5 linked regions of the Homo sapiens genome follow. The protein of the gene in region 3 purifies or fractionates together with the protein of the main gene of each other region. This does not show direct contact. Each region holds a gene or a part of one and is shown on either strand. Other genes may lie near its edges. The genes, in order: EIF2AK4, HELLS, GCN1, EIF2D and ACAT1.

Region 1 (6,210 bases), on a different chromosome or scaffold from region 3:
TAATCTTGCAGTGCAAAATCTGAAGGGGTCATTTTCTAATGCTTCAGGTATAATTACTAATTATAATCTGAACATAATGATGCTTATATGTTTGCTCTAAGCACTTATTACTGTAGCTAACTGCTTGTGACACTGGAAATCTATTTTTAAAATAACATATACGCAATAAATTGTACCACATGGGATGCATCCCTATGCTTTGAAATCCACATCCTAGAAAAGGATAAAACAACTGGAATTTAGCTGACTCTTCTACTCTATCTCTTATTTTTACAAGTGATTTAATCTTCCTTTTACTCAATTTATTGTACAAGTGAAATGTGTATAATTTTCCTGGAGATTTTCCTCATACAGAGGATTGAAGGAAGTATTTTGAAATCCCTTGAAGAAGGACACTATACACATTTTGTTTTCGTGAAAGCCAAGAGGGCACAGTGGTGATAGTTATGCCTTTGCTTTCATCACCTCTAGCAACCTTACTTCTTTTTTAAAGAAGTGTTCCAATTAAGGCCATGAGAAGACATATTTGGCTTTTAACAGAATTGAGTCTTTCCCATTCTCTTCTGTTAGCACTAACTTTGTGTTGCCATCAGATTTCCAATTCTTGCAGGAATTTAAAGAAGTATGCAGGTTTGGTGATATTCAGCTTGATTTTCTTAGGCCCCTGAGGTTTTGATGACTCCTGTTGCCTCCCTGCCCCTTCCACCACCCCCCAACCCCTGCCTGAGGAGAGAAGCATCAAAACTGCTGGGTGTTGGGGTTCTGGGCTCCTCACCTATCCGGTGCAGATGGTTGTAGGGATAGAAAACACAGCCCAGTCGTGATCTAGCCCTTAGAATCACGACAGGATGTCTACTAATAAACTCTGCCATCTCTCTGTAGTATGTTGTAGAAAGTGGGACCAGATAAGGCCATAAATTCTGAAACTCTCTTGGTCTCAGGTTTGTTTGAAATCCATGGAGCAACAGTGGTTCCCATTGTGAGTGTGCTAGCCCCGGAGAAGCTGTCAGCCAGCACTAGGAGGCGCTATGAAACTCAGGTACACTGGGTCAGGGTTTCTTTGGCTTTCTAATATGAGTTACAGAAGAGAAAAACAACAACAGGAAAGGAAAATAAGATAAACATGGAATTTCTTGGAAATATTTTTTCCAAGAAAAAAATTTTTCTTCCAACTTGCCTAACTGGGTGGCTTCTGGCTCCAGGATTCCCATCTGTCCTTCAGAGAGGGGCCATTGTGCACTGTGGGCACCTCAAGGCAGCTGTTGTCAGAGTGACTGCATCTAAATGAAAACTATCTAATCTGGCTCTAAAGGTAGTTGAGGTTTGTTTGTGCTCTAAATAGCAAAGTAGAAGAGGCCGATGACAAGACTTAAGGCAGGCTTCTCATTCCATACATGGTTTCGGCATTTGCTATATGCCTACTGGTGTGCTAAGGGCTGTGTAAAATGTAGAAAACATTAACATGGCCCCAGTCCTCAAAAGAGTTTATAACTTAGAAGCATATGCATTATATAGAGAATAATAAAAGCAAATAAATATAGGCCAGGTGCGGTGGCTTATGCCTGTAATCCCAGCACTTTGGGAGGCCGAGGAGGGCGGATCACTTGAGGTCAGGAGTTCGAGACCACCCTGGCCAACATGGTGAAACCCTGTCTCTACTAAAAATACAAAAATTAGCCAAGCGTGGTGGCAAACGCCTGTAATCCCAGCCACTCGGGAGGCTGAGACAGGAGAATTGCTTGAACTGGGGAGGCAGAGATTGCAGTGAGCCAAGATCATGGCACTACACTACAGCCTGGGCAACAGAGCAAGACTTTGTCTCAAAATAAAATAACTACAGTAGAACACTGAGTTAAATTTATAGAATATGAATGTTAGAGTATGCTGTGGACATATGCAAAAGAGTGAGTGTTAAAAGAGAGCAGTCAATTTTAGAAATGTAATCAGACTGAAATACAAAAATCAGGTACTTTATTTTTGTAAGCTCTTCTAGCTGTTTCTCAGGATTTGGGTGGAAACCTATTTTTCCCGTCTTCCTACTGCCTTCATCACCTACCAAGTTTCAGTTCTCACACCATGTCCTCATTGCTGCCACCTCTCCCTTTTTCCCAATTTAGCTTCATACTATCATCTCTCTGTCTCTGTGTGCACTGTTTCACTGCGCTACGCCTTTATAAGGAATCATTTCAAAATTATGAAGAGATAATTGACAAGGATTATTAAACAAATGGTCAAGATAAGTTATAAAAACCTCATTTCCCCTGAGATCATATTGCTAGACACCCCTTTCTGAGTGGATTAAGAGCAAATCTTCTTTTTTTTTTTTGAGACAGAGTCTCACTCTGTCACCCAGGCTGGAGTGCAGTGGTGCAACATCAGCTCACCACAACCTCTGCCTCCCATGTTCAAGCGATTCTCCTGCCTCAGCCTCCCGAATAGCTAGTATTATAAGCGCCGGCCACCATGCCCTGCTAATTTTTCTATTTTCAGTAGAGACGGGGTTTCACCATGTTGGCCAAGCTGGTCTCAAACTCCTGACCTCAGGTGATCCCCCAGCCTTGGCCTCCCAAAGTGCTGGGATTACGGGCATGAGCCATCGTACCCAGCCAAGGGCAAACCTTTAGACACCATTTGGAATCCTTTCTAGGCTTTGGTATGTAACCCTGTGATTGTATCCTGGGATAGGAAATAAGATGGCAAGAAAGATGGCTTGGTTTAACATGTTCTGAATTCCATTTTCTTACTATTTAGGTACAAACTCGACTTCAGACCTCCCTTGCCAACTTACATCAGAAAAGCAGTGAAATTGAAATTCTGGCTGTAAGTGGCTTTCTTTAGTATTTTGAAGGTGGCTTCTGTCCATACTGTCAAAGTAGTTGCCTCAGGGTTCAGAGCTTTTTTGCTCAGTGTCAGCAGAATTTGGATGCAGGCCTTATTGTGATGTGAACTACACGCAATTTAAAACTATTAAGAACTAGGGGGAGAATTTAAGGTTTTTTGTTTCTCCTCTTTGTTCCTCTTTAAGATAGAGGAAAATGAAAACAAAAGTCATTTTCCTACATATATCAGGCCTTTGCCTTGCTAAGCTTACACCGAATACATGTAGCAGCGTCAGACCTTTCGGGTGTGGTGTAGAGGGACAGGGAGTACAGTTTCCACTGCTTATTAATTCTCCAGGGCTAAGATCTTATCACTGCACAGTTCATTAAGCCCTTTTACAGCACAATAGCATCTCAGACTCTGCAAACCCTATTCATACTGCTGCATTTCACGTGACACTATGGTCACAAGGCAGTATTGTGCTGCTGAGAGTTGATGTACATTTGTGTGTATTCACAGGTGGATCTACCCAAAGAAACAATATTACAGTTTTTATCATTAGAGGTAAGCAATATGAACTCTTCTGCACTGTGGCCTTTAAGATCCCAAATCTTTGCTATTAGTTTGCCAAAATACTGAAGACGGCATTCATTAGTGATAGTATTTTTCTGGCAGCTGCAGGAATTTAGTAACATTTTTCCTTTTATGTAACATATATGTTCCTAAATCCTATGTTGAAGGACTCATACTTTTCTAGTGACTTTATTTTTCAGATACTTATTTTATTAAAAACAAAAAACAAAAACAAAAAAACACATATACTGCTTTTACTATGTGTCAGGGTCTGGCAGGCCTTGTTGTAAGCATTTTACAAGTAGTAACTCATTTAATCATTACCACCCCAAAATGTAGATACTGTTATTATCCCTTTACAGAGTACGGAAGTAGAGAGGTTAAATATCTTACCCACAGTCACCCAGCTAGTAAGTAGTAGAACCAGGATTTGAACCTAAGCAGACTAGCAGAATCGGTGTTCTTAACCACTATACTATACTATCTCTCAAACCTCCATTCCAGCTAGGGAAGCTCATTTGCAGATTAGTACTATACAAAACAAAATCCTTTTGTAAAAATTAATTAGGTCCTTTATAAATATATATATATTTTTACAGGTACATCCCTTTATCATCAAATAGCCTAAATAAGAACTTTAAAAATTTGAATAGTTATCTTTGCTATTAAGAACACTCAACTATAGTCATAGCTACAGGTGACTTTTGCAACATGTCATATCAAAGAATACTTTTTTGTCTATCCAGAGTGTTTAGTCACAAATTAAATTAGATTAATAGTGAACTTAGCCCTAGAACTAGTATTTTATATATCATTTTTTGTTCTCTTACAAATAAGCATATACCACTATCTCACTGGCAGTGTACTGATTTATGATCCAGTCAAATGGATATACTTAAGAGCTGCTATCACCGTTGTACAAAAAGTAAACAGAGGCCGGGTGCAGTGGCTCACGCCTGTAATCCCAGCACTTTGGGAGGCCGACGTGGGTGGATCACCTGAGGTCTGGGGTTTGAGACCAGCCTGGCCAACATGGTGAAACCCCATCTCTACTAAAAATACAAAAAATTAGCCGGGCGTAGTGGCAGGCGCCTGTAATCCCAGCTACTTGGGAGGCTGAGGCAGAAGAATTACTTGAACCCAGGAGGTGGAGGTTGCAGTGAGCCGAGATTGTGCCACTGCACTCCAGCCTGGGCAACAAGACCGAAACTCCATCTCAAAAAAAAAAAAAAAAAAAGTAAACGGTAGGCAGAAATAACTGCTCTAAAGTCACATCAGCACACTAGGGCTGCAGCATTGTTAATCAGGCTCTAATTAGGGAGTCTTGTTTTAAGGAAAACTGGTGCTTCAGAGGAACCCCAGCAGTCTCCTAACTGGTTCTGCTATCTCCCTATTACTGATTCTCCTGGTATACTTGAAGAGGGAAATGACACTGGAATTTCATTAGTGACCCAGAAAAAACCAGCTAGTAAACCCTAGAGACCTGTTGTTAAGTCTTATCTATTTTTTTCCTAGTGGGATGCTGATGAACAGGCATTTAACACAACTGTGAAGCAGCTGCTGTCACGCCTGCCAAAGCAAAGATACCTCAAATTAGTCTGTGATGAAATTTATAACATCAAAGTAGAAAAAAAGTAAGTTATCACTTGGGCATAGCAGGGTTCACATGGTTAAAATTCAGGGCGGGGGGTTTCAGAGTGACATTATTTTGTTGTCTTGTTGAGGTTTGACGCCTGGTAAGCTGTTCTTAGAATTGCAGCTGACAACCAATAAATCTTGCTTGGACTGTGAATCACAGTCATGATCTCATCAATAACAAAACACAGGGGTCCTAGGAGTAGCTGTCCCAATTACAATTTTGTTCACCCAGGTAATTCACTTTCTAAGTATGTTTAAATCAAAGAAAATAACCATGACTACTTTGCTGTATGTCCTTATGTCATAATGCCAATCAATCAATCAATCATTCATGTTATCATACACTTAAAAGGCAACAAGGAAGCCTATGAGGTGAATGGTTATCTCCTTACTAGGACCTTATACTGCAGACCCCTGTCAGTCACACCTTGTATAAAACCTATATAATTTTTTAATGACTAGCCTTCCATCTTGTTTTTGCTTAAATAAAGCTCCTACAGGTGTTATAAAAATTTATTAGCTCTGTTCTTCACTCATTAAACTGAGTCTGTCCTTATATCTTTTCTTTTCTTTTGCAGGGTGTCTGTGCTATTTCTGTACAGCTATAGAGATGACTACTACAGAATCTTATTTTAACCCTAAAGAACTGTCGTTAACCTCATTCAAACAGACAGAGGCTTATACTGGAATAATGGAATGTTGTACATTCATCATAATTTAAAATTAAATTCTAAGAAGAGGCTGGGTGCAGTGGCTCACACCTTTAATCCCAGCACTTTGGGAAGCCAAGGCAGGAAGACTGCTTGAAACCAGGAGTTTGAGACCAGCCTGAGCAACAAAGCAAGACCCCATCTCTATAAAAACTAAAAAAATTAGTTGGGCATGGTGGCACATGCCTGTAGTCCCAGCTACTCCAGAGGCTGAGATGGATCATCTGAGCCTCAGGAGGTTGAGGCTGCAGTGAGCTGTGACTGCGCCACTGCACTCCAGTCTGGGACAACAGAGCAAGACCCTGTCTTAAAAAAAAAAAGAAAAAAAAAATTTTTTTCTAAGAAGCTGTCCTACAAAGTTGAGCTTTGTTAGTTTTTCATGTGTAATATATTATAAATTTATCTTTTGGGATATAATAAATGCTTTCATATACCTGCTGCTTTTTAATTGTAAATCTATTAACACTAA
Region 2 (6,210 bases), on a different chromosome or scaffold from region 3:
AATTGAATGTCCACCTTTATCACTTTTTTTTTTTTTGAGATAGAGTTTCACTCTTGTTGCCCAGGCTGGAGTGCAGTGGCATGATCTTGGCTCACAGCAACATCCGCCTCTCAGGTTCAAGCGATTCTCCTGCCTCATCCTCCCGAGTAGCTGGGATTACAGGCATGTGCCATCATGCTCGGCTAATTTTTAGTTTTATCAGAGATGGGGTTTCTCCATGTTGGTCAGGCTGGTCTTGAACTCCTGACCTCAGGTGACCCGCCCGCCTCGGCCTCCCAAAGTGCTGGGATTAGAGGCATAAGCCACCACGCCCAGCCAATCGCTTTTTAATTCTGGGATATTTTAACAAAAAGCTCAGCAAGACTTTTTTTTTTTCTTAAGGTGGAGTCTCGCACTGTCACCTGGGCTGGAGTGCAGTGGCATGATCTCGGCTCACTACAACCTTTGCCTCTTGGGTTCAAGTGAGTCTCCTGTCTCAGCCTCCCAAGTAGCTGGGATTACAAGTGCCCACCACCACGCCCAGCTAATTTTTTGTATTTTTAGTAGAGACAGGGTTTCACCATGTTGGCCAGGCTGGTCTCAAACTCCTGACCTTGTGATTTGCCTGACTTGGCCTCCCAAAGTGCTGGGATTACAGGCTTGAGCCACCATGCCCGGCCAAGACTATTTTTTAGAACCATAACCACAATACAGTTACCACACTTTTGAAAGTCGATGGGAATTCCTTAATATTTAAATTTCTCAATAGGCTAATTTTTATTTTTAGGGATGGGGGCTTGCTGTATTGACGAGACTGGAGTGCAGTGGCTATTCCTGAGTATTGTCATAGTGACTACACCTCAAACACCTGGGCTCACATGATCCTCCTGCCTCAGTGTCCCGAGTAGTAGTGCAGGGACTATAGGCACTTACCGCTGTGATCTGCTTAGCTCATACATTTTAAAAAAATAGTTGGTTCAAATCAGGATCCGAAAAAGTTACATAAATTGTGTTTGATTAATGCGTATCTTGGGTCTCTTTTAGATCTAGAGTGTCTCTCATCTTTTTTAAGAAACATTATTTGTTGAAGAAAATGAGTAATTCTGTATAATTCCCCACATTCTAGACTTTACTGATTGTATCCCCATGATTTCTCTGCCTCTTGTGTTTCCTGTTAACTATAGTAACTATAAGTTAAATACGGAAGTTTGTGATTAAGGTGTTTTTTTATTTTTTTTTTTATTTTTATTTTTTTTTGGGAGACAAGATCTTTCTCTGTTGCCCAGGGTGGAGTGCAGTGGTGCCATCTCGGCTCATTGAACCTCTGATTGCTGGGCTCAAGCAATCCTCCCACCTCATCCTCCTGAGTAGCTGGGACTACAGGCGTGTACCACCAAGCCCAGCCAACATTTATATTTTTTGTAGAGATGGGATCTCACCATGTTGCCCATGCTTGATTTTTAATAAGAATACTTCATTGGTGGTATTTATAGATTTTGATTTATTTCCAAATTGTTCTTTCAAAAGTTTCATTTTATCTAGTCATTTTACAGGACAGCTTTTATCAGTTCCTGGTATAAAATCCTTTTAGCCTCAGCCTTATAATATGAATATCTATACATACATAATACTTCATACACACACGATATACATATATTCCCATGTATATATATGTGTGTGTGTCAGCCACTTACATGTCCTGTTACTCTTCTATGAATCTTAAATTTGATATTGCTGTTTTGAATCTACTTCATCCCCTATGCCTTCTATATTCTCTCTGCTTGAAATCTACCCTCACTATCTTGAATGATGAAGCCTGGTGACAACTTTTTAGATAATTTTATGTAAGATAATTATTTGCTAAGTCATCCAGTGACATACTCGGGTATTGTTTGTCTCCCTACCAGCAGCATCTAGTAGGTACTTCAAAATCAGAGCACTTTATTCTGTATTTTTAATTTTTTCTGTCTTTGCCTCTTACCCAGGAATGCAAACTCAGATGTCTATCCACAGAGGCCTAAAGTGGGCTGTAACATGGTTTGGCAAACTTTTTCTGTAAATAGCCAGATAGTAAATATTTTTAGCTTTTGAGTAGTTTTGTGGGCAACTACTCAACCCTGTACTCTGCTGTTGTTGCTTGAAAGCAGCCATAGACAAACCGTAAACAAGTGAGGCTGACTTTGTTCCAATTTATCCCATTTCTTTGCTTTTAAAAAAATACCTGTGTATTCGCTTAGCTGGAGTTGGTCTACAGGCTGTAGTTTGCTGACCCCAGGACTAGAGGTTTGTTGCCATGTGTGAATTTGTACTTAATCTACTCAGATTAAAAGAAAGAAAAGCTGGAAAATCACTGTATTTGATGAAATATCCCATTGTATAAGTGTTCCCAAATTAGCCTAGAATGTTATGAAATATTATGAGCCAGTAATGTCTATAGGCTTATTTCTGCCTGAAGGCTACTAGTTTTATCTTGAGAATCTCATCCTCATTTCCTGGCAAAATGAGCACAGAATAAATGCTTGTTGAATAAATAAATAAATGAACTTCATACATTATTAATTTGTTTTTGTTTTCTCAAACTACTAGGAAATTTTGTCTGTGGCTAAAAAAAATAAAAAGGAGAATGAGGTAAGAAATTTATAATGTAAGATTAAGTTTAGAAGTCATATTTACTCCTCAGTTACTAGTCCTTTTTCTTTAATCAGCAGTATACGTTCTTCTCACTATTATCCTGTTTCTTTGCTTTAAAAAAAAATACCTATGTATTCACTTCTTCCATATCCAACATTCTTCTTTTTTATGTATCAACTTTAGTTAGTTGTTTTATTGCATGATTCTTGATGTATAAATGTTAATTTATGGGTCTAGCAATGTTGCTTTTAACTTGTGAATCTGGCAGTGATACAAGTGCTCGTAACCATGTGGATATAAACCGTGAATCATCTTATGGAAGCTGTGAGGGATGCCTTAATCTTGCTTCAGACCTTAAAGATTTTTTAAGTTTCTTAAAAGTTCTGTTTGAGAAGGCTTGATTTCCGAGCCACCTCTTCACTTAGCCCATTTCATGTAGAGAGGTTCCTTGTTATCTGACTTTTTATTGTTCAAGTACTTAAAATTACAAGGTTGCCTAGGGAAGCAAAATAATCATGACATGAAAATATTCATGAATGGATATGAACTTCAGGTAGTTAATTTACATATTAAAGATTTTTAGGCCTTTGGGAAATTAATGTTATGTTTATAAAATGAGAGATAATCTATTTGGTCATATAATTTTGTCCAAAATTTATATTGTAAAAGTGTCTTGGTTTTTATTCTTTGTTAAGTTATTAAGGACTGGTTTATGGGTGCAGTTTAGTTGGATTTTTAAAGATTTAGTTAGATAAACATTTAGTTGGATTTTTAAGATAAAGTCTAGATGTAATCTTCTGTAATTTACTATGGGATTTTGGCTTCATTTTATAACTTACAGTCAGTAAGAAATAGTTGTTAAGTATGGTATTTTAATGAATTTCGACACTTGCATACACTTGTGTAACCACCATCCAAATCAAGGTATAGAACATTTCCATTGTAAAGGGATCTCTTCTATGTCTTTCCACCCCCAAACCCAGAGGAGGCCACTTTTTACACCTTTTATAGGATGGCTTATTATTTCCTTTCCACTCAACATGTCTGTGATACTCATTTATGTTGTTGAGCATATTAGTAACCGGTTTCTTCTTATTGACTAGTATTCTGTTGAATGAATGTTACAATTTTCTCATCCATCCCCTTATTGATGGGCATTTGGGTTGTTTGCAGTTTGTGACTTTTATGAGTAAGGTTGCTATGATAATTTGCACACAAGTCCATGTGTAGACATGTTTTCATACTTTCTGCCTGTGTACCTGGGAATGGTATTGTTGTGTTACGTGGCAAATGTGTGTTCATAAGAAAGTACAGATTTTCCCCCCCAAAGTAAACACATCATTTTATTCTCTCGCCAGCAATGTTTGAAAACTCCAGCTTACATTATTGTCAGCATTTGATAGTCTTTTTAATTTCAGCCATTTTATTAGATGAGAAATGGTAACTTGTGTGGTTTTTAACTTGCATTTTCCTAATTACTACTGAAGTAGAGTATATTTTTATGTTCTTTGATAACTATGTTTTCTTTCTTTTTTTTTCTTTTTTGAGATGGAGTGTCACTCTGTCGCCCAGGCTGGAGTGCAATGGCACGATCTCGGCTCACTGTAAACTCTGCCTCCCAGGTTCAAGCGATTCTCCTGCCTCAGCCTCCCAAGTAGCTGGGACAACAGGCTCATGCCACCATGTTCAGCTAATTTTTGTATTTTTAGTAGAGACAGTGTGTCACCATTTTGGCCAGGATGGTTTTGATCACTTGACCTCATGATCTGCCTGCCTTGGCCTCCCAAAATGCTGGGATTACAGGCGTGAGCCACCATGCCCGGCCTGTATGTTTTCTTTTGTAAAGTATCTGTTAATATCTTTTGCCCGTCTTATTTATGCGTACTGTATTTTCTGTGTAACAGTTTAATAAATTATTGAGTATCACAATATTAGAAGTTTGGAAGAGAGATACAATTCTAATGATCTTTTCAAAAGTATGTGCCTGATTTTAATTTGTAAGGGTTATTCTCAGATTTTTATATTTTATTTTATTTTATTTTATTTTATTTTTTGAGATGGAGTCTTCTGTCACCCAGGCTGGAGTGCAGTGGCTGTGTTCATGGCTCACTGCAGCCTTGACTTCCTGGGTTTAAGTGATCCTCAGCCTCCCGAGTAGCTGGGATACAGGCAGTTGCGTGCAACCACACCCAGCTAATTTTTTGTATTTTTAGTAGACACAGGGTTTCGCCATGTTGTCCAGGGTTGTCTTGGATACCTGGACTCAGGTGATCCTCCTGCCTCAGCTTCCCAAAGTGCTGTGATTGTAGGATTAGCCACTGTGGCAGCCTGTTATTTTTTTTTTTAGTAGCTTTTCATTTGTAGAGGGATGGCGATGTCTCCAGTTTTTTAATCCAGGTGTGATCTTAGTCTTCTATACTTAATGATTATAGGACTCAGTAGATTTTGTTAGTTGCATTTTCTGATAAATGGTGGCATACAGCAGCATTTTGTATAACACATCTTATTAAACTTTTTTTCTCTACAGGATGAAAACTCCTCCTCTACTAATCTCTGTGTGGAAGATCTTCAGAAAAATAAAGATTCGAATAGTATAATTAAAGATAGATTGTCTGAAACGGTTAGGCAGAATACTAAATTCTTTTTTGACCCAGTCCGGAAGTGTAATGGTCAGCCAGTACCTTTTCAACAACCAAAGCACTTCACTGGAGGAGTGATGCGATGGTACCAAGTAGAAGGCATGGAATGGCTTAGGGTAATGAATTGGAATTTTTAATACAAGATACTGGTTTTATTTCTATAGTAGCCTAATGATTTGAGGTACCACAACTTGAGTCATTTCTATCATGTTTCACTATTATACATTTGTATGTGGATACTTGCTTTCTGATTTCTTTACCCTGAATTTTTAGAAGTAGAAATTACCTTGTTAATGGCTTCCAGCACTTTTATGGCTTTGATAAAGGACTTTCCAGTGTTGTTATAATTTATGGTGTGAATATATCAGCTTTAACATAATTCTCATCTTTGGGTGTGATTTTTTAAAGAGAAGAAATAAAATATTGTAATCCTGTAGTTGTTTATATCCAAGTTTAAATACAGTATCTATTATTTTGTCCAGATGCTTTGGGAAAATGGAATTAATGGCATTTTAGCAGATGAAATGGGATTGGGTAAGACAGTTCAGTGCATTGCTACTATTGCATTGATGATTCAGAGAGGAGTACCAGGACCTTTTCTTGTCTGTGGCCCTTTGTCTACACTTCCTAACTGGATGGCTGAATTCAAAAGATTTACACCAGATGTAAGACATGCTTCCTTATGTTAAAATTATAATTTTACATGTTTTCTTATGCTTTGTTGTAGTAGGAATTAAATTGTAGAACTCTTATAATTATATTGGTTTCTGTATAAATATTTTGTCTGATTTGACTTACTCAATCTGCACAATACCCTAATTTAAATTTATATAGTATAGGTTTTGGAAATCCCTGACATCTTTCCTAAAATATTCCTGAATGATTTTCAGTGCATTGGTAATTTGATTCGACTGAGACAGACTTAGGTAGAGATTTTATTAAAAATTCTGCTTGTTCTTCA
Region 3 (6,210 bases):
GGTTTAAGCTCTGCAGGTCACCTTGGCCAGAGTGAGTGGGCCACAGGGTAACAGCAGTGCATGTTCTCTCTGTGTGATAGGCCTGTTGGGGCCCTTGTCGTCTTTTCTCTGCCAAGACCGTTCCATAGCCAGCCCTCTCAGGCTGTGATCCTGAGATTCAGCCCAAATCAATATCTCCCATGGAGTTGAGGGGAGGACAGCTGTCAGGACCACTTTGCTTGCATGGGAGACACCAGGGCCCAGGGTGTTTGAGATTTGACTCTCAGTTGTGGTTCTCTTGTCAGGGAGTGACCTCCATCCTTCCAGTGTTGCGGGAAGGAGTCCTGACTGGCAGCCCTGAGCAGAAGGAGGAGGCAGCCAAAGCCTTAGGCTTGGTAATCCGCCTGACCTCGGCTGACGCCCTGAGGCCCTCCGTGGTCAGCATCACTGGCCCTCTGATCCGCATCCTGGGGGACAGGTTCAGCTGGAATGTGAAGGCGGCTCTGCTCGAGACACTCAGCCTCTTGTTGGCTAAGGTGAGTGGCTGATGAGTTTGTTCAGATCTTAGAGAACAGGTCTGTCTGCAGGAGCCTGATACAAGGTGTCATGTAGCAGCAGGGCAACAGATTTATTGTGGAGAGCCGCATAGCAGAGGGAGGTAAGACCTTGGACTTCAGACATGCTACACCATGGGTCAATTCCAAGTCGTCCTTACTAGCTCTGTGACCAGGATGACCTTGGGAAAGCCATATAACCTAAGCCTGTTTCCTCACCTACAATGTGAGACTAATAATACCAGCTGCCTCATGAAGGGCTGCTAGATATGGGGATTAGATGAGGTTATGTCCAGCATGATGCCTGCTACATACTAAGCACTCAGTACATGTGAAATGCTATTATTTTGAAAAACTACTTTTTCAAAGGAAAAAATTCAGGACCACGTAAATACAAGGAAAACATTGTTTAAAGATATTGCAGTTTTTGTTTTTTTTTGTTTTTTGTTTTGTTTTGTTTTGTTTTTGAGACAGAGTCTAACTCTGTCACCCAGAGCTGGAGTGCAGTGGCGCGATCTCGGCTCACTGCAACCTCCGCCTCCTGGGTTCAAGCAATTCTTCTGCCTCAGCCTCCCAAGTAGCTGGGATTACAGGTGTCTGCCACTACACCTGGCTAATTTTTTTGTATTTTTAGTAGAGACAGGGTTTCACCAGGCTGGTCTCGAACTCCTGACCTCGCACAGCTCAGATTTACCAGCTCCCCCTATCCCCTTTGTGTGCCTGCCACAGCCTGCACACCCACCCAACTCCAGTATTTCCAGACCTTCATTGGCACTGAACCTCCAAACAGTCACTCTGGTTTTCCTAATTAACAATAAGTAAGCCGGGCGTGGTGGCTCAAGCCTGTAATCCCAGCACTTTGGGAGGCCGAGGTGGGCAGATTACCTGAGGTCGGGAGTTCGAGACCAGCCTGACCAACATGGAGAAACCCTGTCTCTACTGAAAATACAAAATTAGCCGGGCATTGTGGCGGGTGCCTGTAATCCCAGCTACTCAGGAGGCTGAGGCAGGAGAATTGCTTAAACCCGGGAGGCGGAGGTTGCAGTGAGCTGAGATCGCGCCTTGCACTCCAGCCTGGGCAACAAGAGCGAAACTCCGTCTCAAAAAAAAAACAAAACAAAAAACAGTAAGTAAATCTTTACTCTTGGACCCACCTGTATTGTATCAAAAGTGTGCCTGTGTTTCTGTATAGTCAGGGGTTGAACTGGATTTTTAGTTAGGTGGGTACACATTTGTGCAGGGAGGATTCTCCAAGGTCATTTGTTTCACAGGCTTGTTCTGAGGGCTGAATGTGGAGTGCGTATCCTGCTGTCAGTTGCTCAGTAGATGGGCTCTGCAATTATACACTGAGTCCCTTTCCCTGTCTTGGCATTAGAACTGTGCTTCAGTACTGCCGATAGTCTGCCCTGCTTGTTAATGTATTCAGAGGAGGATTTGAGTCACTTATCGATATGGACAGGTCTCCACTAAGCCAAACCCCAACGCAGCCAAGGCTGCGAGACAGCTCCCTCAGATAGCGGCCGCCGCCTCCTCGGCCTCCTGCTCCTCCAGTGTATCAAAGCATGCTGGATATGACCAGGAGGCCAAGCGAAACCTGTCTGTGTTTGGCCTCTCTGACGGGCTATCTGTCCCCAGCCCTGTATGAGAGCTGGACTCGCTGTGGTGGTTTGGGATTGTCATTTGTTCTCATGCCTGTGGTACACTGTGGCTTTGGGTCTACCACAACTGTCTTTCATGGATGTGGGTTCCTCCCACAGGTTGGGATTGCCCTGAAGCCCTTCCTGCCCCAGCTGCAGACCACTTTCACCAAAGCCCTGCAGGACTCCAACCGGGGGGTGCGCCTGAAGGCCGCAGATGCTCTGGGGAAGCTCATTTCCATCCACATTAAGGTGGACCCCCTCTTCACAGAGCTGCTCAATGGCATCCGCGCCATGGAGGACCCAGGTGTCAGGTACGGCGCTGGCAAGGGAGCACTGTGGCCTCCAGGAGGCCAGGGGTTGCTGTGGGCCGAGCCTGCGCTGGCAGGAGGGGTGGTGGTGGAGGCACCCAGGGCTTAAGGCGGTGCATTGCTTCTGCAGGGACACCATGCTGCAGGCCCTGAGGTTTGTGATTCAGGGAGCAGGGGCCAAAGTGGATGCCGTCATCCGGAAAAACATCGTCTCACTCCTGCTGAGCATGCTGGGACACGATGAGGTACGGCTGCAGGCAGGACTAGTGGCAGCACTGGACCACTGGTTTCCCTCCTCCTCCTTAGGTTGAGTTCTTCACTTTGTGTTAGAACCAGTACAGCTCAGTAGTAATAAGCATTCCTGACATTTCTATCACCCTGTATGCTTCACCAACATTTCCTCGGGTTTCAAGGGAAACGGGGCAGGTATTGTGGATATATTGGTTATTTCCGTTTGTTTGTTTGTTTTTTGGCTGAGTCTTGCTGTGTCACCCAGGCCGGAGTGAAGTGGCACAATCTCGGCTCACTGCAGCCTCCGCCTCCTATCAAGCGATTCTCCTGCCTCGGTCTCCCGAGTAGCTGGGATTACAGGTGTCCGCCACCATACCCAGCTAATACTTGTACTTTTAGTAGAGATAGGGTTTCACCATGTTGGTCAGTCTGGTCTCAAACTCCTGACCTCAGGTGATCCACCCGCCTCGGGCTCCGAAAGTGCTGGGATTAACAGGCATGAGCCACCGCGCCCGGCCGGTTATTTCTATTTTATAGATGAGGCAAGTAAGCTTTGTAGAGACCCAGACCTCTCACCTATTTGCTCTCTGATCTTAAAGAAGTCACTTTCTCTGTCTGCCTCTCATTTCCACTTTTGTAAAATGAAGAGGTTTATTTATTGTTTTGTGAAACATTTGCCGAGCTAAAGGGCCTATCCCAGAGGTGCATAGACCTCGTGGTCACAGACCTCAAGAAACTTAGTGTGTAGTGGGATAAATGGTCTCCAGGGTGTGTCCCGGTGGCAAGTCTTAGAGGTCTATTTTCGAGGGTGAGACTTGTCTGGGCCATACCCAGCAAGTAGTAGAGTCCAAACCAGAAGCCCTGGACTCCTGGTTCTGTCCCAGTTCCATCAGCCTCACCTAGTCTGGAAGCATCTGTCAAATATTTGGCTGCGAGCACTGTGGGGCCAGTAGGGAGTTGAGTCTATGGAGAAGAGTTTTCTGTTCCCTTTTCAGACAGCCCTCTGTTGTGGTCTAATTTACTTTGTAGGGCCAATCTAGGAGGAGAGGGCCTTTGGGCTCACATGGTTTTACACGTCATTGACACACACACACACCCACACACACTCCTCCTGCCCACACCTGCAACACACACACTTGCTGCTGCACTTCCCATGGCTCCAAAGGCCTAGTTCTGGTCCCCAGGCGCCAGCTGTCGGACTCCAGCCCCAGCCTTCTCTGTGGGGACAGACAGGAAAGTCTGCTGTCTTGGTCACAGTCTTTCAGGGCTTCTACAGAGTCATGTGTACAGTGCAAGCAAAAGTTAGTATTGAAACATATTTGCATTTTACCACAGTGCAGCTTAAAATAGATGAAGTTGGAGAGAGTCGGTGTCAGAGCCAGCTTTAGCTTGGCACCTGGGCTTCTGCTTCGAGCTCAGAGGCCCAAACTGCTGGCAGTCCATTCTCTTACCCTCTGAACCTCCACTCAGATTGAAGGTGGCAGTTCAGGGTGCCAGCCTGGCATTAGCTTTTTGGGTTATTGAGTCCCTGGTTGGTGGTTTGTTTTGGGGACATGTTGAGTTGGCACCTGTAATAAGGAACATAACTTAAAATCCTCTCTTGGTATTCCATAGTTAGCTGGCCAGGGAGGAGCACGGAGCCGCTCGCGTACCTGGCTCTGATTTGAACAGGAAGTGCTTGCCTTTCCTTATCTTCCTTGGCTTGATTAGTGGCTTTAGTTTGACTTCCTAGGATGAACCCAAGTAATTTCGGTGGCAGTGGGGCACTCATGCAGTAGGGAGATAGCAGGAGTCATTCTGGCCACAAGATGACACAAACTCTGTGGGAGAAAGGAGCTCAGAGTGGCCGTCTCTAGCCGGCTTCCCTGGTGGCTGGGGGCAGGTGCCTCCCCTCCTGCCCCTCCCGCCCCTCCCTGCCTCACAGGGCTGTTGATAGTAATTGAGATAATAAATATGAAACATTCAGCCTTCCTAAGAAGAAAGATGCTATGTAAATACAGTTATTACTGCTATTACAAGGATGATTACCATATGCATACACACTGGGGTTTTCTATAATTAAGTGAAGTGCTGGCTGTGTAATGTTTAACTCCATACCAGTGGCAGCCCAATCTGGCAGGGGAGCACGAGTGCCTACAGGAAGGACTGGATCTTGAGTCTCTGAGTTGGCTTTTCCACCTTCTTTGTTGCTGTCCATCCTGGGCTCTAGAGCTGCCTGCCTTGGTTCCCACACAGCTGGTGTTGTTCCCTGCACCCCCTCACTCCCTTCTCTTCCCTGTCAGGACAACACTCGCATCTCCTCAGCCGGGTGCCTAGGGGAACTGTGTGCCTTTTTGACTGAAGAGGAGCTTAGTGCCGTTCTACAGCAGTGCTTGCTGGGTAAGTACACTGGAGAGTTCCCCTTCAGGGACCTGGGCCTCTCAGCCCTAGCGAAGAGTCGACGGGCATCTCCCTCCCTCCCTCAGAGGATCTTTTAGCAACTGGACTGTCCTTTCCTTGGGAATCCAGCAGTTAAAGCAAAATCCAGGCCAGGGGTGGTGGCACTCACCTGTAGTCCCAGCTACTCAGGAGGCTGAGGTGGGAGGATCAGTTGAGCCCAAGAGTTGAAGGTTGCAGTGAGCCTTGATCACGCCCCTGCACTCTAGCCTGGGCGACAGAGCGAGGCCCTGTCTCTAAAACAAACAAACAATACTGAATTTGCAGTGGTCCCGTAGCCCTGAGTGTCTCTGCTCAAAGAACACAGCTGTAAGCCCGGAGTGGTTCATGAGCAGGCTTTCCTTACTTTCCTTAATGTGCCACTTTGGGGAGCTTCTGCCAAGATAGCAGGGAGGTCCATGTGAATGTGGCCTGGAGTTTTCCTTGTGCTCTGGGTCAGCACACTGGTCTCCAGCGGGGTGGGCCCATGGGCCTCATGGGTGCTGGGGACATGCTGTAAAATACCGGTTGATCCCAGTCGTGTCCTTCCACCCAGCGGACGTGTCCGGCATTGACTGGATGGTTCGGCACGGGCGGAGCCTGGCACTTTCCGTGGCTGTGAATGTGGCTCCTGGCAGACTTTGTGCCGGCAGATATAGCAGTGATGTTCAGGAAATGATCCTGAGCAGTGCCACGGCGGACAGGGTAAGGCATTCGGGCCATATCCCATAGGCATAGGCCACATCCCATAGGCAGCACCTTGTGGACACAGCGCGGGTGGACCCCAGACTGGGGCTTAAGAAGCTTGGGTCTAATTTTACCTTTGTCAGTAACTTGCTGTGCCCTTGGACCAGCACTTGATCCCTTTGGGCCCCAGTTTCATCATCTAAACAAGGAATTTGGGTTGAAGAATCTAGATGCCCCTTCTGGGTCAGGTCTTGGATCCCTGTTCCTGGGAACCAGTGACTGTACTCATCTGCCTCAGCCGGGGCAGCCTGCCTGAGAGCTGTCATGGTGTAAGGGGTGATGTGGTGGTGATGTAGTGGAGGGTCCTGGAGATTACTAGGAACTGGGGTTTTCCTG
Region 4 (6,210 bases), on a different chromosome or scaffold from region 3:
GAAGAAACTGAGGCATGGAACTTTTAGGGGCCCAGAATTGAAAGTACGCTTGAGATGAGGGCACAGGCTCTCTGCCCCCTCCTGGCCACTCCTGCCTGTTGGCTCTCTGCTGTCTCTGACCTCACTGCTGACTCCTCTGTGGCCAGGGCTGGAGAGTATTGGAGCTGCTGCTTGATGTTTCTGACATGAGATTTTTCCAGGCGGTCTGGAAACAAGTCCTCTCCACCTTCCATTGCTCCACTGGCCCTGGATTCAGCAGATCTCAGTGAAGAGAAGGGGTCTGTCCAGATGGACTCCACCCTGCAGGGAGACATGAGGCACATGACCCTGGAGGGGGAAGAGGAGAATGGGGAGGTTCACCAGGCACGTGAAGACAAGTCTCTCTCAGAAGCCCCAGAAGACACCAGCACCAGGGGCCTGAACCAAGACTCCACAGATAGCAAAACGCTTCAAGGTATAACTCTAGGAGGAGAAGAGCCCATCTCCCCACCTCTCAATTTAGGAGCCTGACGAACTCCACTCCACTGCTGACTAGAATGGCCCTTAAGCTTCCGGGGGAGGAGGGGAAGGTCCTTATTTTCTGTGAGGGTGGCGCAGCAGCCCTTTCACATCTTGTTTTTGAATCCTTTCCACATAAGTCACGTCTTCCTGGGAGCTAATCTGCCCTGGCATTTGCCTGTCTTCAGCTACAAAGCCCTCCAAGGTTTCTTCTGGCTCAACTTCTCTGGGTGAACACTCCTAGCTTGGTGGGACTTTGTGGCTTGACTCCTTCTCTGGGGTCAACCCTCTTTAAAGGCTCAGTGCTCAAGAGAGGCTGGGAGCTTTGGTACCTGGGAATGGGTTCCTTTCAGAGCCAAGTGGGTGAGGTAGGGATGAAGCTGGGGGTCGTTTTCTTGTACCAGGTGTTCTGTATCCCTCAGGAAGGATGTGGCTCTTGTCTTTTCCCTGCAGAACAAATGGATGAGCTGTTACAGCAATGCTTCTTACATGCCTTGAAGTGCCGAGTCAAAAAGGCTGACCTCCCTTTACTCACCAGCACTTTCCTTGGCAGCCACATGTTCTCCTGCTGGTATGGAAAGCACTGATGTGGGCTGGAGGCCGGGGCCGGGGTCTCACGTGTGCTCCTTGGTAGTAGGACAGGATGGGGCCAATGCAGGGACTGGTTGAGGGACATGCTGTGGAAAGAGTGGAGGGAAGGCTTATCTGACAAATACATTAGTTCCTGGGTTCTAAAAAGTTAATTCTTAGCTTGCTGGGCTGTTAAAACAAAATCTTAAATTTTAGCCAATGAAAGGATATTGAGGACCGGAAAGTTAAAATTCCTGAGATTCTGTGAACACTGCCTCTGCCGTGGGGGTTCTGGGCAACCTCACAAATCGGGCAGCGTGTCCTCTGCAGGAAGTGTCCCAGGGCAGCCTCTTTGTCAGGAATCTTCTTCTGGAACATTCAACCTCCTCACACTTCTGAAAAGTATGTGGGGGGCCACATTAGGTTTTATTAGGAGGAAGAATTGGTGTGAACACCCCCCGTCCCGGCCCACCCCATCCAAAACACAAGCCATCAGGAGTGGTATTATTGCGTGTGGATAGAACCTGGATTTTGAAGACAGAGCTGTCTGTACTCAACTGCTAGGTCTCCAGGGTGTTCAAGCAATGTGCATTTTAGCTTGTTACTGGGCTTCTCTGAGTCCTAATTTCTAATAATCATGGGATTGCTGTAAAGATTACATAGCCTGAACCATAATAAGCATTCAGTAAATACTATCATGTCAGGAGGTTTGCTTATTGATTTTTACCCTGAGATTGAATTTATTTATTTATTTATTTTTTGTTTTGAGACACAGTTTCACTCTGTCACCCAGGCTGGAGTACAGTGGCGTGATCTCGGCTCACTGCAACCCCTGCCTCCCAGGTTCAAGAGATTCTCCTGCCTCAGCCTTCCCGAGTAGCTGGGATTACAGGCACATGCCACCATGTGCAGCTAATTTTTGTATTTTTAGTAAAGATGGGGTATCACCATGTTGCCCAGGCTGGTTTTGAACTCCTAACCTCAAGTGATCCGCCTGCCTCGGCCTCCCGTAGTGCTGGGATTACAGGCGTGAGCCACTGTGTCCGGCCTGAATTTATTTCTTTTTGAGAATCTGGCTGTGGTTTTTTAAAAAAGTGATTCTTAATGTAATGTCTTCCCATTTATACTTGGGTGTCTTTAAGCTATCCTGTACAAATGTGGTGTCTGGAGTGTGTGGAGGGATACTTGGTAATCTGTTCTGACTTTCTTGGGTTGCAAATATATGGTAAAGGGGCCCCAGAATATTCTGTAGGATAGGATTCTGGGGTGGATTCTAGAAGGACTCCTCGAGAATCCACTGCTATTGCGTGTCATGTTTTGAGAGAAGATGTAAGCTTTTATCAGGAATGTTCTCTCCAAAACTAATTGCTGTAGTGCAGGGGTCAGCATGTTTTTCTGTAAAGGGCCAGATAGTAAATATGAATATTTTCAGTTTTGCAGGCCACACCATCTCTGTTGCAACTGCTCGATGCTGCCATTGTAGCACTAATGTGACCATAGACAGTAGATAATTAGTTGGCCAGACCTGACCCCAGGATGCGGCTTGCTGGGCCCCACTCCAGGCCTGGCTGCCCACAGTGTGAGTTTGCTGTTGCAACTTTGGAGGCCACAGAAGGTTGTCTGGTCTGGGAGGAATCTAAGGCTGTATCCAATGTGGTAGCCACTGGCCACATGTCGCTATTTTCAGTTTAAATTAATTTAAAGTAAATAAAATTTAAAATTCAGTTCCCTTGGTCACATTAGTCACACTTCAAGTACTTACTACCCACATGTGGCTAATGGCTGCCCTGTTAGACAACACAGAGAACATTCCACGTCTATGGAAAGTTCTCTTGAACAGCACTGATTTAGAATGTCCCATAGTCTGCATCCCTCTCTGCTGTCATCCCTGGGCAGAGAGTTCTGGCACAGTGGCCTCTCTCTGAAGGTGGGGGAGGAAGGCTGAGGAAAAAGGCCCTCCTCTCAGTGTCAGGCAGGTCCCAGTATGACTGCTCATTAGTTTAATTTGCCTTTTCCATCTGCCATCAGCCCCGAAGGACGACAACTGGACATAAAGAAGTCAAGCTACAAAAAGGTAAGCAAGGATCTTCTTTGCAGACCCATGCAGAGAGTTGTGTAGGGGCACATATGACATAAGCCAGATGGATGCTGGGGAAGCCTTGTCTACCAGGCTCAGTCTAGAATTAAGCTTTTTGACTCCAAGTATAAGGGGGAAGAAAGAAACTCTCCCTGGGCTGAAGCAGTTGGTGGCACCCACTTTCCTTTCTCCTTTGACCCCTTTATATCTGATTAGAGTTCTGAACGGCCTCACTGGTTAGTCTCTAGCAGCTTCTTGCTCCCTGGCCCTCAGGTTGGGGGCCTCCCAGTTCCTGGTTGATGAAGGCAGGGGCTGTCTCATATCCCTGCACAGTCCCTGCCTAGCTCACTCTGGCACATCCTGGGTGCTCAGTATGTGTGTGGAATCAATGAAGTCCCCTACCACTGGCCCTCTCTCCCTTAGCTCTCTAAGTTCCTGCAGCAAATGCAGCAGGAGCAGATTATACAGGTGAAGGAGCTGAGCAAAGGGGTGGAGAGCATTGTGGCTGTGGACTGGAAACACCCGAGGTGAGTGCAGGGGGCCTGTCACTGTAGCCCAGCTGGCCCCAGGGCACCTGGGCCACGGACTGGGGATTGCTGAGATGCTAGTATAAAATGTGTTTTTTCTTTCCTTCTGCTGGGTTTTAGGATTACATCTTTCGTCATACCCGAGCCCTCCCCGACCTCCCAGACTATCCAGGAGGGTAGCAGGGAACAGCCCTATCACCCTCCAGATATAAAACCCCTCTACTGTGTCCCAGCCAGCATGACCCTGCTCTTCCAGGAGTCTGGCCACAAGTGAGTTTTTGGAGAGCAGCCCTTCTCTGCCTGCTTGGTGTTCTGGCCTACAGTTCCTCTCAACCTGAGTAGTGCTCTTTTGCGACTGGCAAAACCTGCTCTGCCCCTGTTCTCCCCTTCTCCAAAATCCAGCTTCCAGCCTTCTTCCCTGGGCAAGTTCCTCTGGACTAAATGAACGAGTAGGTCTCACCCTTTTCTGCGTGTAATTATTCTTCACATGGTCATGCTCACTTCAGTCAGGAAAAGGGAAGAAACTAGAGGCCGAAAGCTAAGGAAAGTTCCCTGCTCAGCAGGGAGTGAGTCTGGGCATCTGCATTTTTGTCTCATGGCACAGCATGAACTAACCCCTGGGTCACTTCTCCTCACCTAGGAAGGGGAGCTTTCTGGAGGGCAGTGAGGTCCGAACGATCGTCATTAACTACGCCAAGAAAAATGACCTGGTTGATGCAGACAACAAAAAGTGAGTGCATGAGAAGCACCAGATCTGTCTTATTGGGTCTTTGTCTTTATCAGACATAGACACATTTGGGGAGGATGTCTGGGAGGGAGAATAGAAAACCATAGCATCTTAGAGGTAATTAAGATCAGTGGTTTCCAAACCATGGGCTGTGGACACTCAGTTATTGTCTGGGGTGTTCAGATCCATGTATACGATCAACATTGACTACCGACTAAGTAAATATTCTCTCACAAATACCCATGAATCATCTTTAATTGGCTATTGTGAGGAATAAAATGCAAGCTTACAAAGAATTTACTGAAGTCATCATAGCTTTAGGTATTTATTTTTATTGATAGATATTTGTACATATTTATGGGGTGCATGGTATTTTGTTACATGCACAGAGTGTATAACGATCAAGGCAGGGTATTTGGGGTATCATCACCTTGAGTATTTACCATTTCTATGTGTCGGGAACACTGTAAGTCCTCTTTTCTAGCTATTTTGACATACACAATACATTGTTGTTAACTACAGTCACCTTACTCTGCTCTCAAAGACTAAACTTATTTCTTCTATCTAACTGTATATTTGTACCCATTATGGTATTATTTTCTTAAAAGGAGATACAGATGGTAAACTACCAGATGAAGAGAGTTCCATTAATTGTTTTTTACTTTAATGGCCGGACACTGTGGCTTATGTCTGTAATCCCAACATTTTTGTAGGTTGAGGTGGGAGGATTGCTTGAGGCCAGGGGTTTGAGACCCACCTGAGCAGCATGATGAAACCCTGTCGCTACAAAAAATACAAAAATTAGCCGGGCATGGTAGGGCATGCCTGTAGTCTCAGCCACTTGGGAGGTTGAGGTGGGAGGATCGCTTGAGCCCAAGAGGTTGAGGCTGCAGTGAGCAATGATGATGCCACTGCACTGCAACCTGGGTGATACAGTGAAACCCCATCTCAAAAAAAAATTTTTTTTTCACTTTAAAAAAACATCATCATGATAAAAAAGTTGAGACATACCAGCCTAATCTAATACCTTCATTTTATTTTATGTTTTATTTTTATTTTTGAGACAGAGTTTTGCTCTTGTTGCCCAGGCTGGAGTGCAATGGTACAATCTGTGCTCACTGCAACCTCTGCCTCCCAGGTTCAAGCGATTCTCCTGCCTCAGCCTCCCAAGTAGCTGGAATTACAGGGATGCGCCACCATGCCCGGCTAATTTTTGTATTTTTAGTAGAGACGGGGTTTCACCATGTTGGCCAGGCTAGTCTTGAACTCCTGACCTCAAGTGATCCACCCATCTCGGCGTCCCAAAGTGCTGGGATTACAGGCGTGGGCCACTGCGCCCGGCCCTATTTTTAGTAGAGATGGGGTTTTACCATGTTGGCCAGGCTGGTCTTGAACTTTTGACCTCAGGTGATCCTCCCGCCTCAGCCTCCCAAAGTGCTGGGATTACAGGCGTGAGCCACTGCACCTGGCCAACACCTTCATTTTAAAGATCCCCACTTCCTTTCTTTCTTCCTCACTAGCCAATTTTGATGCTAAGCTTAGAAAGCTGTGGTCACATGCTTAGTTAGTAGCAAAGGCTCCTGATCTTCAAATTTATCCCATCTCACTTTCCCTTCCACCTCCTGCTTTTCCTAGGAAAGCATTCGTGTATCTCCCACCCATAAGGTACATTGCCTTTTGGACTGTGGGCCCATAATTGATTCATATCCTGAATGTCTATAAAGGCCGTACGAGAGATGAATCCTGAATTAGCCTTCAGGTCAGAAGGGACAAGTCTAGGATTTCTTCATTGCCTCTTCTTTCCCTTTAGT
Region 5 (6,210 bases), on a different chromosome or scaffold from region 3:
GGGATGTAACAGTGAGCAAGAGACACCATCCCGCCATCAGGAAGCCTGTATTATGTTGGAGGGGTGGATAATAAAACAAAGATGTGAACCACATACTTACAGTGTAAGAGGTGCTTTGAAGGAAATAAAGATATTCATATAAAAGAGAGGAAAAAGTAGAGGGTAACTTTAAATAGAGTAGTTAGGGTGGACCACTCTGGGAATGTGTCATTAGAAAAGACATGAAGAATAGGCTGGGTGTGGTGGCTCACGCCTGTAATCCCAGCACTTTGGGAGGCTGAGGCGGGCAGATCACCAGGTCAGGAGATCGAGACTATCCTGGCTAACAAGGTGAAACCCTGTCTCTATAAAAATGCAGAAAATTAGCCAGGCGTGGTGGCGGGCGCTTGTAGTCCCAGCTACCTGGAAGGCTGAGGCAGGAGAATGGCGTGAACCTGGGAGGCGGAGCTTGCAGTGAGCCGAGATCGCGCCACTGCACTCCAGTCTGGGTGACAAAGTGAGACTCCGTCTAAAAAAAAAAAAAAAGAAAAGACATGAAGAATAAAAATGAGCCAGCCATGGAGAGCTGGGAAGACTTTTTGTTTTGTTTTGTTTTTGATTTTTTTGGAGACAGGATCACACTCTGTTGCACAGGCTAGAGGGCAGCGGCGCGATCTCGGCTCACTGAAACTTCTGCCTCCTGGATTCAAGCGATTCTCCCACCTCAACCTCCCAAGTAGCTGGGACTACAGGTGCCCACCCCCACACCTGGCTAATTTTTGTATTTTTAGTAGACACGGGGTTTCACCATGTTGGCCAGGCTGGTCTCAAACTTCTAATCTCAAGTGATCCACCTGCCTCGGCCTCCCAAAGGGCTGGGATTATAGGCATGAGCCACTAGGCCCGGCCTGAGGAGACTATTACTGGCAGAGGCACACTGCAGAGACCTTGAGGTATCGGGATAGGGTTTAGAACAAAGAGATGCCAGTGGCTGGCACAGAGCAAGAGTGATGTAAATTTGGAGAGAAAACCTAGAGCCAGATCATGCAGGTTCTTGGAGGATGAGGTAAAGAATTTGTATATAATTCCAAGAGCAATGAAAAGCTGTTAAATTATTTTAAGCAGTAGAGTGATATGATCTGATTTACATTTTTCAAAGCTGGAGGGACTGTAGAGAGGTGTCAGGGGAGGCAGGGAACTAGGTAGAAGGCCATTAATAGGAACAAGAGATGGTGGCTTGGACTAGGTGGCAGCAGTAGACATGAGGCAGAGTGGACGAATTTAGTTATGTTTTGGACGCTGTTCACAGTATCTGGATTTTAGGGATTGCAATAAAGGGAAGGATGAAGGATGATTTTGGCTTGAGCACCTGAGAATACCGGCAACAAACAGGTTTTCTTTTTTTTTTTTTTTTTTTTGAGATGGAGTCTTCTCTGTCACCCAGGCTGGAGTGCAATGGCGCAATCTCAGCTCACTGCAACCTCCACCTCCCGGGTTTAAGCAGTTCTCTTGCCTTAGCCTCTGGAGTAGCTGGGATTACAGGCGCGTGCCACCATGCCCTGTTATTTTTTTATTTTATTTTATTTTTATTTTTTTGTATTTTTGGTAGAGACGGGGTTTCAGCATGTTGGCCAGGCTGGTCTGGAACTCCTGACCTCGTGATCCGCCCCCCTCGGCCTCCCAAACTGCTGGGATTACAGGGGTGAGCCACTGCACCTGGCCACAAACAGGTTTTCTAGGGTTGGAAATTGAGAGCTATGATTTGGACATTCACCTGCAGCTGTCAGGTTGGCGCTTGGGTGTGAGTCTGGTGGTCAGTTGAAAGGTCAGGGTTGGAGATAGAAATTTGGAAAATCATCAGCACATAGAAGCCTTTTTTTTTTTTTTTTGAGACAGAGTCTCACTCTGTCACCCAGGCTGGAGTGCAGTGGCGTGATCTTGGCTTACTGCAAGCTCCACTTCCCGGGTTCACACCATTCTCCCACCTCAGCCTCCCAAATAGCTAGGGCTACAGGTGCCCGCCACCACGCCTGGCTAATTTTGTTTTTGTATTTTTAGTAGATATGGGGTTTCACCGTGTTAGCCAGGATGGTCTCTATCTCCCGACCTCGTGATCTGCCTGCCTTGGCCTCCCAAAGTGCTGGGATTACAGGCGTGAGCCACTGTGCCCGGCCTCATAAATGCTTTTTAAAGCCATGGGACTGGATATAACTAAGGATATAGTGAAGTTAAATTAAAAGAGGCCTGGAACAAAGCCCTGGGACATTCAGCACTTGGAGGTTGGAAGGGGAAGATGAGATAGTAAAGGAGACTGAGGTAAATATGACTAATGAGGTAGGAAGGAGTCCACGTTTGTAATGGAAGCCAAGACAAGGAAGGGTTTCTGCAGTGGATTATACATATTACCTCATTTTATTCTCATAACAGCCTGTGGAGGGTATTTAAGAAAACCAAGGTAAGTGTGTCTAAGTAACTTGCTCAAAAATACTCAGCTTGCAGGGCACAGTGGCTCACGCCTGTAATCCCAGCACTTTGGAAGGCCAACGCAGGAGGATCGCTTGAGCCCAGGAGTTTGAGACCAGCTTGGTAAGATAGTGAGACTCTGTCTCTACAAAACAAACAAACAAAGAATACTGAGCTGGTAAGCCCAGGCTCTTAACTGCTCAGCATATTTCTCAAAGAAAGGTGAGCCCAGTCTTGCTGATGTGTTAAAAGGTTAAGTGAGACAATTATAGCGAGTTGGATTTTGCTACACAGACATTGCTGATGTTGCTCAGAACCAACAGTGGTAAACTGGCAGAAATAAAATCCTGATCTGAGTGGGTTGAACTGTAAAGAGGAGGTGAGGACAAGCAAATAGACACTGTAGGTAACCTGGAGAACCTTTCTTGCCAAAGAGAACTAAAGTAAGGTGAGGCCATGTGCAGTGGCTCATGCCTGTAATCCCAGCACTTTGGGAGGCCGAGGCAGGCGGATCACCTGAGGTCAGGAGTTCAAAATCAGCCTGGCCAACGTGGTGAAACCCTGTCTCTACTAAAAATACAAAAATTAGCCGGGCGTGGTGGCGCATGCCTGTAGTCCCAGGTACTCGGGAGGCTGAGGCAGGAGAATTGCTTGAACCTGGGAGGCAGAGGTTGCAGTGAGCTGAGATCGCACCACTGCACTCCAGCCTTTTTTCAAAAAGAAATGAGGTGAAAGCTCGGGAATGTGGGTCAAGAGACATTTATTTGTTTTTACTTTGTTTTTTAGGTGGGGGGAATCAGATCCTGTTTGTATGCTTATGGAATTATCCAGAAGTAAAAGGGGTGAATGATGTAGAGGAGAAGGAAGGGATAACTGTGCCATCTTTGAAAAGGCAACTGGAAATGGGATCCAGAGTAAAGTGGAGAGAACCAGGGAAGATTCCATTAAACTGGACCAGAAGCTTGAAAGAAGAGAAGTGGCTTAGTAAACAAGGAACAAACTAGCTAAGTAGAAAGGGGACTTTTAAAATTTAATTTTTATTTCAATAGGCTTTTGGGAACAGGTGGTGTTGGATTATATGAATAAGTTCTTTATTGGTGGTATCTGATATTTTGGTGCACCCATCACCTGAGCAGTATACACTGTAAACCAATGTGTAGTCTTTTATTCCTCACCCCCACCCCCCGCCTTTCCCCTGAGTCCCCAAAGTCCACTGTATCATTCTTATGCCTTTGTGTCCTCATAGCGCAGCTCCCACTTATGAGTGAGAACATAAGCTGTTTGGTGTTTCCATTCCTGAGTTACTTCACTTAGAATAATAGTCTCCAATTCCATCCAGGTTGCAGTGAGTGCCATTATTTCATTCCTTGTTACGGCTGAGTAGTATTCCATGGTATATATACCACATTTGCTTTATCCACTTGTTGATTGATGGGCATTTGGGCTGGTTCCATATTTTTGCAATTGCAAATTGTGCTGCTATGAACATGCGTGTGCAAGTGTCTTTTTCGTGTAACGACTTTTTTTTTTGAGATGGAGTCTTGCTCTGTCGCCCAGGCTGGAATGCAGTGGCGTGATCTCGGCTCACTGCAACTTCTGCCTCCTGGGTTCAAGCGATTCTCCTGCTTCAGCTTCCCGAGTAGCTGGGATTACAGACGTGTGCCACCACGTCCAGCTAATTTTTGTATTTTTAGTAGAGTTGGGGTTTCACCATGTTGGCCAGGCTGGTCTTGAACTCCCGACCTCATTATCCGCCCGCCTCAGCCTCCTAAAGTGCTGGGATTAAAGGCATGAGCCACTGTGCCTGGCCTTCATATAATGACTTCTTTTCCTCTGGGTAGATACCCAGTAGTGGAATTGCTGGATCAAATGGTAGTTCTAGTTTTAGTTCTTTAAGGAGTCTTCAGAAAGGGGACTTTTTGAAGAGATACAATGGGCAAGCACTAGGACATCCAAGGATAGGAAATAAAGTGCAGCTGGCTGGGTACAGGGATGTGTGCCTGTAGTCGCAGATACTTGGGAGGCTGAGGCAGGAGGATTGCTTGAGTCCAGGAGTTCTGGTTTATTTTTTATTTTTATATATGAAAATTTTCAAACAAAATAAATTGCAACTGACCCTGCCAGAACCCAAGCTAGAAAATCACTAACCAAAGCCATCTTTTGCCTCTTGTGGTGTGCCATGGTCTATTTCTCCTGTCTCTGAGTATATATGTTGCATTCTTTTGCTTCTCAGTGTATTCATGGCTTTTCTCTTTGTTCTAACCGCTGCTTTTCTGTGGCATTGGCTGGTCAGCTCCAGCCCCTTTTGACTTTTCAGTCCCAGTCCCCACCGTCATCCAACTGACCCAGTCTCTCTGGGTCCTAGCTTGGGTGAGTCCATTCCATTCTTGATCCCATCAGCTCTGGCCAGAGGCAGGGGAGTCACCTTGTAAGTACTTAGGGTTGTCCTTTGAGAAAGACATGTGTTTGGAGAGGCAGTGACCGGCATGTTTACTACAAGTAGGAACTTTTTTTTTTGTAAGTTTTTAAATTATTATTTTTTAAATTTATTATCATTTTTTGAGACTCGCTCTGTCGCCCAGGCTGGAGTACAGTGGCGTGATCTTGGCTCACTGCAAGCTCTGCCTCCCAGGTTCAAGTGATTCTCCTGCCTCAGACTCCTGAGTAGCTGGGCTTACATGCATGGACCACCACACCCAGCTAACTTTTATATTTCTAGTAGAGACGGGGTTTGACCATGTTGGTCAGGCTGGTCTTGAACTCCTGTCCTCATGATCCACCCGCCTCGGCCTCCAAAGTGCTGGGATTACAGGCATGAGCCACTGCGCCCAGCTACTGATAGTCTAATTTCAGATCAGTAGGTCTCTGAATTGTGTCCTGCGTTGTCAGAATTAATTAATTAATCTATTTATTATGGAGTTTCACTCTTGTCTCCCAGGCTGGAGTGCAGTGGCGTGATCTTGGCTCACTGCAACCTCCGCCTCCTGGGTTCAAGCAATTCTTCTGCCTCATCCTCCTGAGTGGCTGGGATTACAGGTGCCCGCTACCACGCCTGGCTAATTTTTGTATTTTTAGTAGAGACGGGGTTTTTTCGCCAAGTTGGCCAGGCTGATCTCTAACTCCTGACCTCCAGTGATATGCCCACCGCAGCCTTCCAAAGTGTTGGGATTACAGGCGTGAGCCACTTGCCCAGCCTACTGTTGACATTTGTTCCTAAGAAGTGTGGAAAGAACTGAGAAGTAGTAGGGGCAAGATGTTTACTCTTTCCTTTTTTAAGAAATAATTTATCTGCTATTATAGGTCATATTTATATGAGATGTGTTTGCCTCATATAAATCAGACAATTGTTGGAAGTGGATAGGGAGAAACAGCAAGTTTTACTTGAAAACAATCTTAAAAAATGAAAATATCTTGTTAGATTCTAAGACTAAATAATTTAGAACCTAGCTTTAACTCAAAACTACATTTTAGAAAGCTATATTTAAGAAAGACTTGGAATTTTTTTTTTTTTTTTTTAGACAGTCTTGCTTTGTTGCCAAGGCTGGAGTGTAGTCCCAGAATCTTGGCTCACTGCAACCTCCGCCTCCTGGGTTCAAGCTATTCTCCTGCCTCAGCCTCTGAAGTAGCTGGGATTATAGGCATGTGCCACAATGCTGGGCTAACTTTTGTATTTTTAGTAGAGACTGGGTCTCACCACGTTGTCCAGGCTGGTCTTGAACTCCTGACCTCAGGTGATCCGTCCACCTTGGCCTCCCAAAATGCTAGGAT

The links.
Region 1: the proteins of GCN1 (region 3) and EIF2AK4 purify together in Homo sapiens (affinity purification with western blotting, with the first as the bait; one study listed by BioGRID). This does not show direct contact.
Region 2: the proteins of GCN1 (region 3) and HELLS fractionate together in Homo sapiens (co-fractionation; one large-scale study listed by BioGRID). This does not show direct contact.
Region 4: the proteins of GCN1 (region 3) and EIF2D fractionate together in Homo sapiens (co-fractionation; one large-scale study listed by BioGRID). This does not show direct contact.
Region 5: the proteins of GCN1 (region 3) and ACAT1 fractionate together in Homo sapiens (co-fractionation; one large-scale study listed by BioGRID). This does not show direct contact.

The regions. Positions count from the first base shown.
Region 1 is NC_000015.10:40,029,418-40,035,627, forward strand, and holds the end of EIF2AK4 (eIF-2-alpha kinase GCN2), read left to right. Parts: coding exon 1-47; intron 48-941; coding exon 942-1,039; intron 1,040-2,751; coding exon 2,752-2,820; intron 2,821-3,339; coding exon 3,340-3,384; intron 3,385-4,908; coding exon 4,909-5,027; intron 5,028-5,609; coding exon 5,610-5,667; 3' UTR 5,668-6,174; downstream 6,175-6,210. UniProt on the Homo sapiens protein: Metabolic-stress sensing protein kinase that phosphorylates the alpha subunit of eukaryotic translation initiation factor 2 (EIF2S1/eIF-2-alpha) in response to low amino acid availability.
Region 2 is NC_000010.11:94,568,823-94,575,032, forward strand, and holds part of HELLS (lymphoid-specific helicase), read left to right. Parts: exon of another isoform or gene 1-2,565; coding exon 2,566-2,607; exon of another isoform or gene 2,608-5,137; coding exon 5,138-5,365; intron 5,366-5,731; coding exon 5,732-5,914; intron 5,915-6,210. UniProt on the Homo sapiens protein: Plays an essential role in normal development and survival. Involved in regulation of the expansion or survival of lymphoid cells. Required for de novo or maintenance DNA methylation. May control silencing of the imprinted CDKN1C gene through DNA methylation.
Region 3 is NC_000012.12:120,130,807-120,137,016, reverse strand, and holds part of GCN1 (stalled ribosome sensor GCN1), read left to right. Parts: intron 1-284; coding exon 285-515; intron 516-2,290; coding exon 2,291-2,484; intron 2,485-2,611; coding exon 2,612-2,726; intron 2,727-4,994; coding exon 4,995-5,091; intron 5,092-5,683; coding exon 5,684-5,832; intron 5,833-6,210. UniProt on the Homo sapiens protein: Ribosome collision sensor that plays a key role in the RNF14-RNF25 translation quality control pathway, a pathway that takes place when a ribosome has stalled during translation, and which promotes ubiquitination and degradation of translation factors on stalled ribosomes.
Region 4 is NC_000001.11:206,597,195-206,603,404, reverse strand, and holds part of EIF2D (eukaryotic translation initiation factor 2D), read left to right. Parts: intron 1-200; coding exon 201-454; intron 455-951; coding exon 952-1,069; intron 1,070-3,096; coding exon 3,097-3,142; intron 3,143-3,568; coding exon 3,569-3,672; intron 3,673-3,792; coding exon 3,793-3,942; intron 3,943-4,312; coding exon 4,313-4,402; intron 4,403-6,209; coding exon 6,210-6,210. UniProt on the Homo sapiens protein: Translation initiation factor that is able to deliver tRNA to the P-site of the eukaryotic ribosome in a GTP-independent manner.
Region 5 is NC_000011.10:108,125,415-108,131,624, forward strand, and holds part of ACAT1 (acetyl-CoA acetyltransferase, mitochondrial isoform b precursor), read left to right. Parts: intron 1-2,471; exon of another isoform or gene 2,472-2,565; intron 2,566-3,228; exon of another isoform or gene 3,229-3,445; intron 3,446-3,688; exon of another isoform or gene 3,689-3,787; intron 3,788-6,210. UniProt on the Homo sapiens protein: This is one of the enzymes that catalyzes the last step of the mitochondrial beta-oxidation pathway, an aerobic process breaking down fatty acids into acetyl-CoA.